Linked DNA regions of Homo sapiens. The protein of the gene in region 4 interacts with the protein of the main gene of each other region in a biochemical or structural test. Each region holds a gene or a part of one and is shown on either strand. Other genes may lie near its edges.

The links.
Region 1: the proteins of ERG (region 4) and TRIP12 form a complex in vitro, tested with the Homo sapiens proteins (one large-scale study listed by BioGRID).
Region 2: the proteins of ERG (region 4) and SNRNP200 form a complex in vitro, tested with the Homo sapiens proteins (one large-scale study listed by BioGRID).
Region 3: the proteins of ERG (region 4) and HNRNPH3 form a complex in vitro, tested with the Homo sapiens proteins (one large-scale study listed by BioGRID).

Annotation. Positions count from the first base shown.
Region 1 is NC_000002.12:229,915,510-229,919,009, reverse strand, and holds part of TRIP12 (E3 ubiquitin-protein ligase TRIP12), read left to right. Parts: intron 1-3,500. UniProt on the Homo sapiens protein: E3 ubiquitin-protein ligase involved in ubiquitin fusion degradation (UFD) pathway and regulation of DNA repair.
Region 2 is NC_000002.12:96,295,547-96,299,046, forward strand, and holds part of SNRNP200 (U5 small nuclear ribonucleoprotein 200 kDa helicase), read right to left. Parts: intron 3,422-3,500; coding exon 3,269-3,421; intron 3,157-3,268; coding exon 3,057-3,156; intron 2,875-3,056; coding exon 2,738-2,874; intron 2,175-2,737; coding exon 2,091-2,174; intron 1,991-2,090; coding exon 1,817-1,990; intron 1,525-1,816; coding exon 1,387-1,524; intron 1,146-1,386; coding exon 990-1,145; intron 113-989; coding exon 1-112. UniProt on the Homo sapiens protein: Catalyzes the ATP-dependent unwinding of U4/U6 RNA duplices, an essential step in the assembly of a catalytically active spliceosome. Plays a role in pre-mRNA splicing as a core component of precatalytic, catalytic and postcatalytic spliceosomal complexes.
Region 3 is NC_000010.11:68,338,564-68,342,063, reverse strand, and holds part of HNRNPH3 (heterogeneous nuclear ribonucleoprotein H3), read right to left. Parts: coding exon 3,377-3,500; intron 2,925-3,376; coding exon 2,838-2,924; intron 2,625-2,837; coding exon 2,509-2,624; intron 953-2,508; exon of another isoform or gene 891-952; coding exon 755-890; intron 480-754; coding exon 384-479; intron 306-383; coding exon 213-305; intron 87-212; coding exon 10-86; 3' UTR 1-9.
Region 4 is NC_000021.9:38,491,978-38,495,477, forward strand, and holds part of ERG (transcriptional regulator ERG), read right to left. Parts: intron 1-3,500. UniProt on the Homo sapiens protein: Transcriptional regulator. May participate in transcriptional regulation through the recruitment of SETDB1 histone methyltransferase and subsequent modification of local chromatin structure.

The sequences.
Region 1 (3,500 bases), on a different chromosome or scaffold from region 4:
AGTTAGTAGCTTTGTGACCTTGAGCTAGTCACTTAACCTATCTGGTCTTCATTTATTTTATCTGTAAAATGGGAGTGGGTAATCTCTATTTTACCTCACTGGGTGGTTGTGAGACCCAACAGATGTAATGACTGAAAAAAAACAACATGCTAAATAAATTAATTTTAGAAAATTACATGAGCTGTTTTGAGGTCATTTTTAAAAGATACAGCTTCTCATTAGTCGTGGTGGTCCATGGGGCAGGGGAGAATTAATGTAAACTAGGTTGAAGGTACAGAGTTATAGAACTTCATAATTTGAAATTGCTGCTTAATTGGTAGTAGAATTTGGGTCTCATTTTTGTCTTTTTAAAGTTACCTTCTTTTTTTGGTATCAGCATGCCAGATACTTGTTTGCCATACATTCTACTGAAAAAACTTGTTAATATGTTTAAAGAAACTTCAAATTCATTTACGTTTTTTATTGACAAAGTACCTGTTCTGGTTTGTGACTCTAATGAAATTGACTTAATGTAAGAGATTACAATTAGGGAATAATGCTTCTGAATCTTGGTCACTGTTTTCTTTACAGAACCTAGGGAACTTTCCCCCCTTTTAAGTGGATGGGTAGGGATCTTTTTGAGCAAATGTGATACCAGTTGCTCCTTTATTTTTTTGTTTGCTATTTGATGGACTCAAGTCAAAACAGCAACCTACTTGGTTTTTTAATCTTCACTGAAATCATTCCTTGCAATTGCCTGTTTGACATGGACTTTTCCCTCATTTAAATCAAGCAAGCACCCACTATGTACAGAAAAACATAGAAGATAAAGGATGTGAAGAACAACTTACAACTCATGTCTTCAGATCACTTCCTCGAACAAGTTTCTACCTGTGATCTTTGTATTTCTGATTAACTGTACTTGCTTCGTTTCTGCATTACAGTATTGCATTTGTTGACATGTGTTGCTTTTGTTTCCCTGATTGGACTGTAGGCTTCCTGAGGGCAAGGATGATTTCATGTCAATGTGGTATGTGTGAAGGTATACTAATAAACCTGATTGGTCTGGGTGAGGTGGCACTGGAGGTGAGGACGTGGGAGGATCGCTTGAGGCTAGGAGTTGTAGCCCAGGCAACATAGTGAGACTGTCTCCACAAAAAAGAAAAAAAAAGTTAGCTGGGCATGGTGGCATGCATCAGTAGTTCTAGGCAACTTTGGAGGCTGAAGCGGAAGTATTGCTTGAACCCAGAGATTTGAAGTTAATAGTTATGATCATGCCACTGGACTCCAACCTGCTTGGAAGGGTTCTTTGACCCCAGCAGATTCTTCAGAATGCTTTCTCTTGGTTGGTTCAGTGATCAGGGCCTCTTCACATCTCCCCTGACTAACGTGCCATTAGAGTGCCTGGATGGATATCAACTGTCACTGCCATGTTTTAGTGTTAAGCCAGTGGATTATTCTGTGCCACTTTTTTCATAGGCCAAGCTTTAGTTAATAAGGCCAAGCCTGAGGAGAGTCCAGGCCAGATAGGGTGGAAGAGTAAAAATCTGGTGGATGTTACAGAATAAATATAATTTTTAGATTGTTGTATATAATCTTAGTGCTTGGTAATTTTTTTTTTTTTTTTTTTTTTTTTTTTTTTTTTTTTTTGAGACAGAGTCTCGCTCTGTTGCCCAGGGTGGAGTGCAATGGCGCGATCTTGGCTCACTGCAGGCTCCGCCTCCAGGGTTCATGCCATTCTCTTGCCTCAGCCTCCCGAGTAGCTGGGACTACAGGTGCCAGCCACCACGCCCAGCTAATTTTTTTGTATTTTTAGTAGAGATGGGGTTTCACCTTGTTAGCCAGGATGGTCTTGATTTCCTGACCTCGTGATCCACCCGCCTTGGACTCCCAAAGTGCTGGGATTACAGGCGTGAGCCACCGCGCCCGGCCAGTGCTTGGTAATTCTTAACGTGTAGTGTAATGTAAGCTTTACTTGTGTATTTTCTTTTGGTACTTGTGTATCATTTCAGCAGCTGTGTTACAGACTTGAAGACATAACCTCAAAGCAGTTGTTCTCTACCTCTCTGCTGGGTTTCTCTGTGCATAATGGATGCTTGCTGTTATTTGTAATAAATAGATAAGTATACCGATGCTAGACCTGTCCCTTGATTTTTCTTTTTTTTTTTTTAAGTAAAATTTAACTCTGCTAATGTCTTGGGTTTTTTAAAAATGTAGTTCTTTAATATCCTAACTTACTGATAGTTTTAGGTTATTGGCAAAAAGAGGTTTCCTAGACTGAAATAAGTCTGTTCAGTCATTTTTCTCTGAGGCCTTTTAGATTTTGGTTGTTTATTGTGATTTCAGTGATTTCATTAAACTGAATTGGATAGAAGAAAAAGGAACTTACCCATTATTCAGGCTTACCTGCTTTGTCTTGAGAGTGCAGAAGCTATTGGCAGTAGTCAGTTTCATGGTTATGCTTGTTCGTTTGTTGAGACAGAGTCTCACTTTTGTCACCCAGGCTGGAGTGCAGTGGCGCGATCTCGGCTCACTGCAACCTCCACCTTCCAGGTTCAAGTGATTCTCCTGCCTCAGCCTCCCAAATACTGGGATCACAGACGGGCACCTCCACACTTGGCTATCATGGTTATGCTTGATTTAAAAAGTCATTCAAATGGTCTAGAGTGAAAAATACCTGCTACTGTGTGTTTTCCTTAATAGCACTGTTCAAGTGATTATCTGATTTGAAGGCAAGACTTAGGTTCCAATCCTGGCTATGCATTTCCCATCTTTGTAACCTTGGGCAAATAATTTAACTTAGTACTTTGTGAGCTTCAAGTGCCTAATCTGAAAAATTTGATTATTACCACCTAATGTAGAGTCAGTTGTCATTTATATGCTAGACATTCTGTATTTAGATTAGGCTCCACAGATGAATTGGAACACAAGGCCCTTTCTCCACTTGTTTACAGTACTGTGGACCATTGCCTCATTTGTTAAAACTCTTTTAACTCGAACATACCTCTGTTATATGCATAGGTATCCTACTTGAAACATTTGACCCAGTGGCTCATGCCTGTAATTCCAGAACTTTGGGAGGCTGAGGCAGGAGGATCACTTGAGCCCAGGAGTTTGAGACTAGCCTGAGCAACTTAGTAGAGACCTTGTTGCTACTAAAAGTAAAAAATTAGCTGGGCATGGTGGCACATGCCTGTAGTCTTCAGCTACCTGGGAGGCTGAGGTGAGAGGATTGCTTGAGCCTGGGAGATGGAAGCTGTGCTGAGCTGTAATTGTGCCACTGCACTCCAGCCTGGGTGACCGTGAGACCCTGTCTCAAAAAATTTTTTTTTTTTTTTAGTATACAATAGTATTCCTTAGTTGATTATGAATTCTTTAAAGTCTTTAGCCCTCACCCTTTTTTTAACTTTTATAAGGACACTAATCCCAAGTAGTGTCCCTTTTTATCTCTGCATCTAGCACAGTAGCTGGCCCATGATAGGGATTAAGCGTTTGTTGACAGAATAAGTCTTGTGAAAATA
Region 2 (3,500 bases), on a different chromosome or scaffold from region 4:
TGTCCCACTTCTCGGGGGTGCAGACGATGATCTGAGTGGCACTGATCTCTTCTTTGCACAGCTGGTGGTCCCCAGTCAGTTCAGCAACAGTGATGCCATAAGTGGCCAGGCGCTGTGGGAGGAAAACTACATCAGGCAGGAATGCTTGAAGGGGCCTGGACACCATGCTTTCTGTTTGGGCAATTGGAGTGTAGGGCATTGGGAGCAGGTATCAACCCATCAGGTGAATACAAGGCGAATCAGATCTTATGAACATATCTTCCTCAAACAAATCCAAATTTAACTCAGGCAAATAAAGCAGACAAAAGATCTCTGGGGGCCAGGCATGGTGGCTCATGCCTGTAATTCTAGCACTTTCAGAGGCCAACGCAGGCAGAATGCTTGAGCCCAGGAGTTCTAGACCATGGTGAAACCCTGTCTCTACAAAAAATATAAAAATTAGCTAATCTAGTAGTACATGTCTATAATCACAGCTACCAGGGAGGCTGAAGTGGGAGGATCACTTGAACCTGGGAAGTTAAGGCTGCAGTGAGCCATGATTGTGCCATTGCACTCCAGCTTGGGCGACAGCGAGACCCTGTCTCAAAAAAAAAGACCTCTGGGAACTCTGTACACAAGAGGAAGAAATGGCAACTTGTAGATAAGAAGACCTACAATACACCACTAGGTCTATTATCATCCACATCCATTTGATGTTTCATAAACACTTCAATAACACAAATGATACGAACTGCAGAAAATTGCCATGGAGAGGATGAAAGAAAGATGCTAACCCTTGTAAAAGATGGCTCAGGACATTCTTACTTCAGAAACTCTGTACCTGGGTTAAGTTCCATCTTGGAAATGGGGAGAGAAAAATAAAAAATAACAACAATCCCAGGAGGCATGCCAGAGATGCCCTAATACAAGAAGCGGTGAGGTCCAGGCCTGTCCACAACACTTTCATAGGTGCACCCAGTATCCTCTGCAGGAAAGTTCTACTCCCTCACCTTTCCAAAGCTGCCCACCATCTCCTGCACCAAGGAGCGCATGGGGGCAATGTAGATAATCTTGAAGTCATCCACATTGATGGTGCCGTCCATGTTTATGTGTTTCCCAATCTCTCGGAGCATGCACATCAGGGCCACGTTGGTCTTCCCAGCACCCTACGGGAGAGGTCAGGGATGAGAACGCCTATTCACCTGGTTATTCTCACTGCCCTAACTTCCATGGGCTTATTTCCCAAATAGAGAATAGAGCTTGTCCTGGGCACTTTATCCTACTATTTAACCTCTCTTCCATCAAAGGACAAAGAATTAGGGGGTGGGGGTGGAAATAAAAAACAATCTTGCAACGGAAACTCCACACCATATTCTACAAGAAAACAGCAGGCAGGGTGGCGCTTACAGTAGGAGCACACAGCAGCAGATTCTCATCCGTCTCAAGGGCAGCACGGTAGAGCTTACTCTGGATCCGATTCAGTGTTTTGAAGCCCTCAAACCCAGCCTGGGCATACTTTGGCAGCTTTTCCACTGGAAGCAGTTGCTAGAAGAAAAGAAGTGCCATCAATATCATGTTGGCAGCATCCTTGAGCAAAACGTTATTGTGGGATTGCCAGGATTTTGTTCCCTGGCAATCTCTTTGCATAACTTTCCATTAAAGGTCAGTCCAGAGATCAATATTGTCCCCTGGGCTCAAAATCAGAATGGGAAAATTCTGTTGCAGCTTTCAGCCCTGAAATAAACTATATATGAAACAAGGCTACATTTTGGTCAATGGTTGAAATCCAAACCAGGAGGTGAACTGAGCAGAGAACTGAAGAAAGCAATTCACTTACTTCTTCTGAGCCAAAGGGCTTGGGCTTCAGAGCAGGCACATGCACCTCTTCATAGCCCTTACGCTGGCGACGGAAGGATCCATCAGGAAGCTGACAGCGTTTATTGGCCATAAAGTGGCTCCCTTGGGTAAAAACCAGGTCCTCCAAGTCCAGAACCTGCCGTGGAGCCAGTGCCTGGGAATGTGAAAGACAAAAACACAAAGGAAGTAAGCAAGCCGAGCAAGTGAGTTTTCCATCCATCAAGGCCTGGGAAATAAATCGCCCTGGATCCTACCTCTCCACCCTGGTCGAGATCCATGGTTTCCAGATCTGTGTCCATTCGAGACTGACGCACTCGCTCTCTCCGGGACCTTTCCTCCTGTAGTGGACAAAGATAAAAATCACAAAAACAATTCATCAGTATCATAGGTTCTTGTCCTTTTCTGCCCCTGCTTAGCTAATACTTGAGTCACAGGTGCTGACTAGTAAGTCGTGAAACAGAAAGACAGTGCTTTACATGGGGACCACCAGAATGATCAAAGCAAACAAACACTTTTAAAGGGGCAATGCGCAGTACAAGGATGCCACAAATACACGTTCTATAATTAAGTACCAAGGGCTACCCCTGAGGGGTCGAAGGGTGGGTTCCATTAAGCAAGTACATGTGTTCTGTTACTCTATTTTAGTAAACACCATGGATTTACTGTGTAAATAAACAATAAAGGTCCCCACAGTGCTGGTGAAAGATAGCAGCAGGTCACTGGTCTCATGACCAAACCAATGTGGATGTGTTGATTCTAACCTGTATGCACTGATAAACCCCAAAGAATTTAGGAAATTACTTTTTCAACTTCCACTTTTAACATGAATTTAGCTTCATGCTGCAATCTTCTAGCCACCGTTAGCTCAGAAATCAGACAGATAAACCAACCCAGTCCTTACTCGGATCAGATCCTCCTTCTCGGTTTCATGAAGCTGGTAGAGGAACTTGGATAGCTCTGGGTCAGCTTCCATCTTTCCCATAATCCTTTCCTTTTCAGCTTCACTTTGTGCACTGGCCAGCAAGGTACAGTATAAAACTACCCACAACAAAAGGAACAAAGGAAGTGAGGAGGAGGAAATAAGGCAAAAAACCATCCTCAGGGTAGAAAGAAGAAAAATAAAAGAAACAAGCACTTAGGCTGTGAAAACAACAGAATCTCTATGTCACACATGCACACATATGTACTCACTCTGCAGGAAGACCCCACCATATACTCACTCATCATCCTGTGCTGCCGCAACACTTTAATGAAATCAAAGGTGTTGAAACCAAGCAGCAGAACCAGCTGATTTTCACATTCCCGATCATCACTGGCCGTCTGCAGAGAGCAGGTAACACCACCATTAAGGCCAAAGCCATCTGCCACTTCATACGCTGTCCCCATGTGCTAAGATACACTAAATATACAACTATTGTCATCTTGGCCATACCTTCAAAATCTCCAATACTTCATCTGCCTTCTTCTGCGACACGATGGCATCATCATAGAAACGACTGAGCTGCCGCTGCAGCCAAAATGCATCAATATCCCGAGGGTGCAAATCCTTCTTCTTGGAACTCATCAGTTCACCTGAGGCTACGAGCTATAAAAGTAACCAGGCATTTAGCTCACCAGGTCTCTGCCAGCCTCGATCACTTTGCCACCACCCTGCAACCAAGTTC
Region 3 (3,500 bases), on a different chromosome or scaffold from region 4:
TTTTTGCTTTCAGTACATCCCACGCCATCCACCTCCACTCATGCCGCCTTGCCCATAGTAACCTCCACTGCCTCCACCACCACGGCCTTAAGAAAAAGATATTAAGAATCACTCAGCAGGAGATATCTGCATAAAATAATAAAAGTAATACCTGCACTTTAAAGTTTGCACTACATATGCGGACTAACACAAACTGAACTAGAGATACTTACCATAACCACCCAAACCATCAGGAGTACCATATCCTCCACTGTAATTGTTCCCCATTCCCATTCTTCCAACTGATCCATAGCCTCCCTGATTATCTTTAAAAAGAAAAAAGAAAAAAAATTGAGACTCATCGATAAGCAGCTAACCCTGCATATTTTAAAAACTTTACATACCCATTCCATCTCTTCCGTAGCCTCCCATTCCAGAACCTCCCATGCCAGAGCCGCCTCCAGGAGTAGAATTCAAGAAGAGTTCAATATATCGATGTTCTTTAAGAAAAAAAGAAAGAGTAACAGGGGAGAAAGGAATGATGGATAAAATTCATCAATACAAGCTTTGTAAAAAAGATCAATTAAGTAATATTAAACAAAGTATGCTTATTAATTACTAGTACAGCGATATATAAAGCCCACAGAAAGCCATTATAGAGGTCAAATGGTTTTAAATCCCAACAACTGCCAAGCGTTACCTACAGATCTTAGAGCCTCTTATTTTATAAATTCACGTTTAGGAAATAAGATTGTGTGCCAAAGACACCACTTACGCATGTTATTTTTATCTTTAGACATGGCAGCTACTGCATCTTCATGTGTCACAAACTCTACATCTGCTTCTCCTGTGGCTCTGCCATCAGCTCCAATATCAATATGAACTCGTATTGGATTTAGTGGTGAGAAGAACTAAATAAAAGGAAACACTTATTTACTTTTCTATTGAGAATATTAAAGTAAATTACCACATACCTTGATTTTTCCTCATCAATTAAAACAAACCCTTCCACTGCCCTGTCAGACTAATAACTTAGTCAACTACAGAGGTTCTGTGAATATCAGAGTATACACTTAGGGATAATGTAAAGAATTTACTGCTTTTAAAATAAGCAGATAGGCAGGGCGCAGTGGCTCACGCCTGTAATCCCAGCTACTCAGAAGGCTGAGACAGAGAATCGCTTGAACGCAGGAGGTGGGAGCTGCAGTAAGCAGAGATCACGCCACTGCACTCCAGCCTCAGAGAGACAGAGTGGGAGACTGTCAAAAAAAAAAAGCACACAAACACACAGAGAGAAATACGGGATATCATGATTTGGAACTATGCGGTTTGAATAAAGCCACCTATTTAAGACTATATGAAATTGTTCCCCAAAAGATATCATTTGGTTCTAATCACAAGTTAGCCAGGTTTTAAACTATCATTAAAAGCAGTTGGAACTCAGGCCAGCTGATTCCCAGTAAGATCTAGAGCACACCATTGCTTTTAAAGCCAGAGTCAGTACTTTTGGCCTGAATGGCCATTGGGTCTCTAATGTAACCACTCAACAGGTAGAGGAATGGTGTGACCGGATTTAGCCCATGGACTGAAGTTTGCTGACCTCCTAACAAATCTGAAACCAACCAGTTTCACATCAGTGACAACAGCAGCATCTATTCCTGTTATTTCCAACTCCTCAGTTTCTAATCACCATCTAGCCTAGAAAGCCAAACCAAATCACTAATATTTATATATTCACTCTTTCAAACCCTAATACAGGTCAGGCGCAGTGGCTCACGCCTGTAATCCCAGCACTTTGGGAGGCCAGGGCAGGCGGATCATGAGGTCAGGACCAGCCCGATCAACATGGTGAAACCCCATCTCTACTAAAAATACAAAAAGTTAGCCAGGAGTGGTGGGGTGTGCCCCTGTAATCCCAGCTATTCAGGAGGCTGAGGCAGAAGAATAACTTGAACCCGGGAGGTGGAGGTTGCAGTGAGCCGAGATCGCGCCACTGCACTCTAGCCTGGGCGACAGAGCAAGACTCTGTCTCAAAAAAGAAAACAAAACAAAAAACGGTACAACAAAAGACACCAGCACAAAATGGTATAGTCATCACCATTCTATGCTGATCAGTCTTTCATTATACTCTTAACTGGACTTCACGAATGTAGCTTTTTACTTGTTTGAATCCTATGTAGGTTGACACACAATGGATACAAAAATATCCATCAGTGATTAGAATTAAAGGTAGATCTAATTAGCCAGGCGTGGTGGCGGGCACCTATAGTTCCAGCTACTCGGGAGGCTGAGGCAGGACAATGGCGTGAACCTGGGAGGCAGAGCTTGCAGTGAGCCGAGATCACACCACTGCACTCAGCCTGGGGGACAGAGCAAGACTCCATCTCAAAAAAAGAATTAAAGGTAGATCTATTTTTATATTCAAGGGATTTTGGTATTAAGCTATAAACATGAGAACATTAAGAATGCTTAAAGATTTAGACACCAGGATAAGTATAAAACCACTAATAGTTATTAAAAATTACTCACATTAGCAATGTCATTTTCAGTTGCACGAAAAGGCAACCCTCTCATATGTACGAAATGACCACCATGAAAACCTGAACTTGCATCACCAGCTCCACCATAGCCATGTCCTCCCATACCTGGAAAACACAATTTGCCAAGATTATAAACTATTACAGATACAAGTAGGGAAGTATACATACATACTATACAAGGTATAAAGCTCTATATAGGAATGCACTGAAATTTGTCTGAATTAACTTTATACAAGTTTCCTATATTACCACTAAGAGCTTGCAAAGCAAATACTAAAATTTACCTATGAATAAAAATGTCTTTAATATTTATTTTACCTCTTCCATCTCTCATTCTGTCATCAAAGCCATCATTCCCATAGCCGTAATTATTATAGCCACCATAGTCATCAAAACCTCCATAACCTGTGTAATTTAAGGAGAAACACATGACTACACACTTTCCAGAGATAAATTTTATAATTTAGTTTACAAAAACATTTTGTGGTAACAGTCTGTGTAACTTGATTGCAAGTTTGCAATTCCCAACTTAAAACCTATGAAAAAAGCAGTCAACGTGATGGAAATTTAAAATCTCAGAAAGTTAATTAAGTTCAGACATGTAAATTAAATTTCATCCTTAGGCAAAAAAAGGTCAAAATATGCCAACATCTTAATTTTAATTTCTGTGTAAGTTTTCTAGGTGCCAATATGTGCATCAGTCAAGTCCCACAGCTAGCCATGGGAATCCGTATTTTCATGAACAGGTTTTAAAACCTAATAGGTACTGAAATTACTGCCATTTCTGTATTTCTTGACAAAGTGTCAGGAACATTAAGAAAATGACAACAGAACCTTTGTTCATTAGATACACATACCACCATCATATCCATCACCTCCTCGTCGCATTCTGTCATACATACTTCCACGCCCAGCTCCATAATAACCCCCTCTTCCTCCTATTGGTCTATCATATGGTCCCGGTCGCTGTCCCAGCAATCT
Region 4 (3,500 bases):
TTCCCAGAAGAGTAGATAACATAAAGTAACCAGCGATAATAATTTTCATTATCCAATTATTTCATGTGTCTCCATAACACTTAATACATCATGTTTCTCTGCACAGTAATTCACTATGTACAGCTAGGGTGAATAGCAGGAAAAAAGAGATCAGATGATAAAGAGAAGGGAGACAGATTTGTGTGACTTGTATAAGATACTTCGCCTCTCTAATCCTTTGTCCTTATCTGTAAGAAAGCAGCAGTACCCAGGCTGCTGTGAGGATCACATGAGACATTATGAGAGTTTAGCACAGGACTTGGCACATAACAAGCAGTTATTAGGATGATGTTAGTTTGGATTATGAATTCAAGATACTACAGCTACATTTTTTATACTTTCTTAAACATCAATTTAAGTCAATTTTAATTAACGTTATTTTACTAGGAGAAATGTCTCTAAAAACATAAGAATTCTATTTGAAGTCTACAATGATAATTACATTACTCTGATATCTTAACTTCCTCTTTATGATTTCAAATAATTAAAATTTAAGTTTATGTTTTCAACAAGTGCTTATTGAACCTCTACTCTTTGCCAGTCACTGTTGAGGACACAGAAGAAATGGATAAGATATCACTAAAAACAGCTTCTGCGATATCAGTGGGTATACATAAATTATTCACACTCAACAACAAACACAAGCAAAGCTGGGAGAATGTGCTGACAGGAAAGAAAATGAAGAGTGGGAGAGTGGACAGATGGGAATCGATGTGAAATTTTATAAAACATGTCTTGGCCAAGCTCAGTAGGGGAAATATGTGGAAAGTAAGCTAGACCAAACAGAGAATAAAAGTATAAATAAGAAAAAAAATCCAGAGGTCACAGTGGACCACTAGCCAAAATGGGTTCACAGCAAACAAACAAAAAAATGTAATGAAATACTAAAATTAAAGAAGTACAAATAAAAATGAGATTCTGTTCTTATCTGTCAGAATGGCAAAGATTCAAAGAGTAAAATATTCAGAGTTGTTATGGGTGTAGTGTGGAACTGGTCTCATATGTGGCTAGAAAAAGGGAGAACTGGTATAATCCTTCCAGAGAATAATCTGGTAATTATTTTTTAAATTGGCAAATATTTAAATTTGGCAAAGACTTAAAAAATATATATACCCATTGGCTCAATAATTCCTTTCTAGGCACCAATACTAATAAAAAGTATTCAAAAAATTAAATAGATGGTGTACTGCAATATAATGAGTGAAACATCGCAAGCAGCATCACTTTATACACTAGGATATTGGTTATAAAATGGTAATACATATTTTAGATAGAATATAATGAAACAAAAATTTTGCTTATCAAAAAATGTTAGTAACATGGGAAAATGCTTGTAAAACAATGCTAACTGAGAAGAGCAGGACAGGTAGGTAGATACAAGGCCAAACAGATACACACGGTGGAGAGACATATCCCAATTGTTAGGAATTTGCTGTGGTTGGTTAGGATCTGAACAATTTATATTGACTTTGTGATGACTTTTAAACGTTTTCTCTACCATAAGAATTTTTTATGTTTATAATTTATGCTAAAGAACAAGATGTATTTTTTGTAATTCAGGAGTAAAGAGGAGAGTGGGGTATTCCAGGGTGCTGTTCCTGCCCTAACCAGGAGCACGATGCAGTCATAGGCCTCTGCCCTCCTCCAGCAGCCTCGGCTCAGAACAGGACGAAGCCAACCCTCTCTGACCAGCACCACCTCGGGCGACCCCTGGACGCTCCACCTGCCCCTGTGTGTGGTACCTGCCCTGCTACACCTTTAACAAGCACCCCTGCAAGCTCCCTCCTCCTTCCTTCCCTGTCCTGTGGCTGCCCAGACCCAGATGTACCCTGCCTGGGTGTGGGAGGCCGCACATCAGAGCAGTCTATGGCTGTGGGCTTCACAGCTGAAGCTGGGCCGTGGGAAATGTTGAGACGAGTGAGTGCAGAGCCTGAAAGACAATACGGTAGAAAAGGTTACATCCGCGGGGGGGCGTCTGATGGCATCTGCCATTTATTGAGGATGGGTGCGAGACAGGGTAGCCATTATGATCCCATTTTACAGGTGACGAAACTGAGATCAGACAGGCTAGCTACCTTGCCCAGGGTCACAACAGGAAGGAAGCAAATGCAAGTGTGTCTGCGGCCACGTAAGGTGAGAGAAGCGCTATCAGGGGTGGTCTGACAGAATCCCCAGGCCAGGGAGCAGTTGTCCTCTATCCTGTGGGGTCAAAGGAGGGGACAAGAAGGCTCTCCTTGAGGTAGCTCCAAAGAAAAGACCCCGCCAGAGCACAGTGTGCTACCAAACGCTGGAACAGCCTGGAGACTGTCCCTGTCTCTTCTCTGAGGTTTCTCATTTCAGAGAAACTCTCATCCGTCTGGCTTCCCCATGGCCCTTACTCTGTGATTCTCTTATGTATCAGCTGTTAAACCAATAAATCCGCCAAATTGTTGGGATGCCTATAATGGCTTTGGGTCTCCACTCCCACAGAGGGAATCTTATTCTAAAGTTCTAAATGTATCAGTCATATTTTCCTGAAGACAACAGAAATGGTTGTTTCATTTACTTATTTTTATGTATGCTTTTTCAAGAGTTGTTAACCTGTGTTTGTGTTTAAATAAAGATCTGTTTTGCAAAACAAAAACTTTATGAGATAATCACTTATAAACGTAGATAATTAAGAAATGGTTCAGGCTCAGCACATTGTCTGAGAGCATTGCAGTCCTGCACTGTATTTCATGGGGGAAGAAAAGCCCACAGATGGAGCCATTCTCAATCCTGCTTTCCAGGGTCACTGAGTCAGGGTGCCTGGCATGCATGGGTGCATGCACACACAGGCAGAGGGCCAGGGAGAACTGTGCTGTGTCCACAGAGGGCAGCCTGGATCACAGAGCTGACCAAGAACGGAAGCAGCAAGTTGTTTTAAAGTAGTTGCCTGTAAAGCCACTTTTCGGCAAGGACAAACACTCAGAGCATGCTCTGAAATGACTTATGCACAGCAGGGCAGCGGCATTTTGCCCCTGGCCTTCCTTCCATTCTCCCGGAATCCCCCTAAAGTAACAAGGACTGACGCAATTCGTATTTCACTTAGCCAACAGGTTGATGAAAAATCATAAATCTGTAGCTATTAAACTCATTAATCACATCCATCAAAATTCTGTGAGGAGTTAACTTTCTTCATATAACTCTTAGTCTTAATTAAGTTTCCCTCACATGTGATAGCAAACGTTCAAGAAGTGCAAATGTGCAGACGTGGCGTATATAATGCAAGCTTTATGTCTTTAAATTAATAAAATTGAGTCCTATCAGGTCGTGTTTCAATTACCATCAAACCTTCCAACCTCTGTTAATTCAAAAAAAAGTAACTTCTTTAGGCAAGTCATGGAAATAGCACTAGGGTGCCCTCAGGTCTCCACCAAGCCTTGTTAGTAACTTTCCATGTCCTGTCTGATTTTTAAGATGCTTTCCCCTGATGCTGCTGC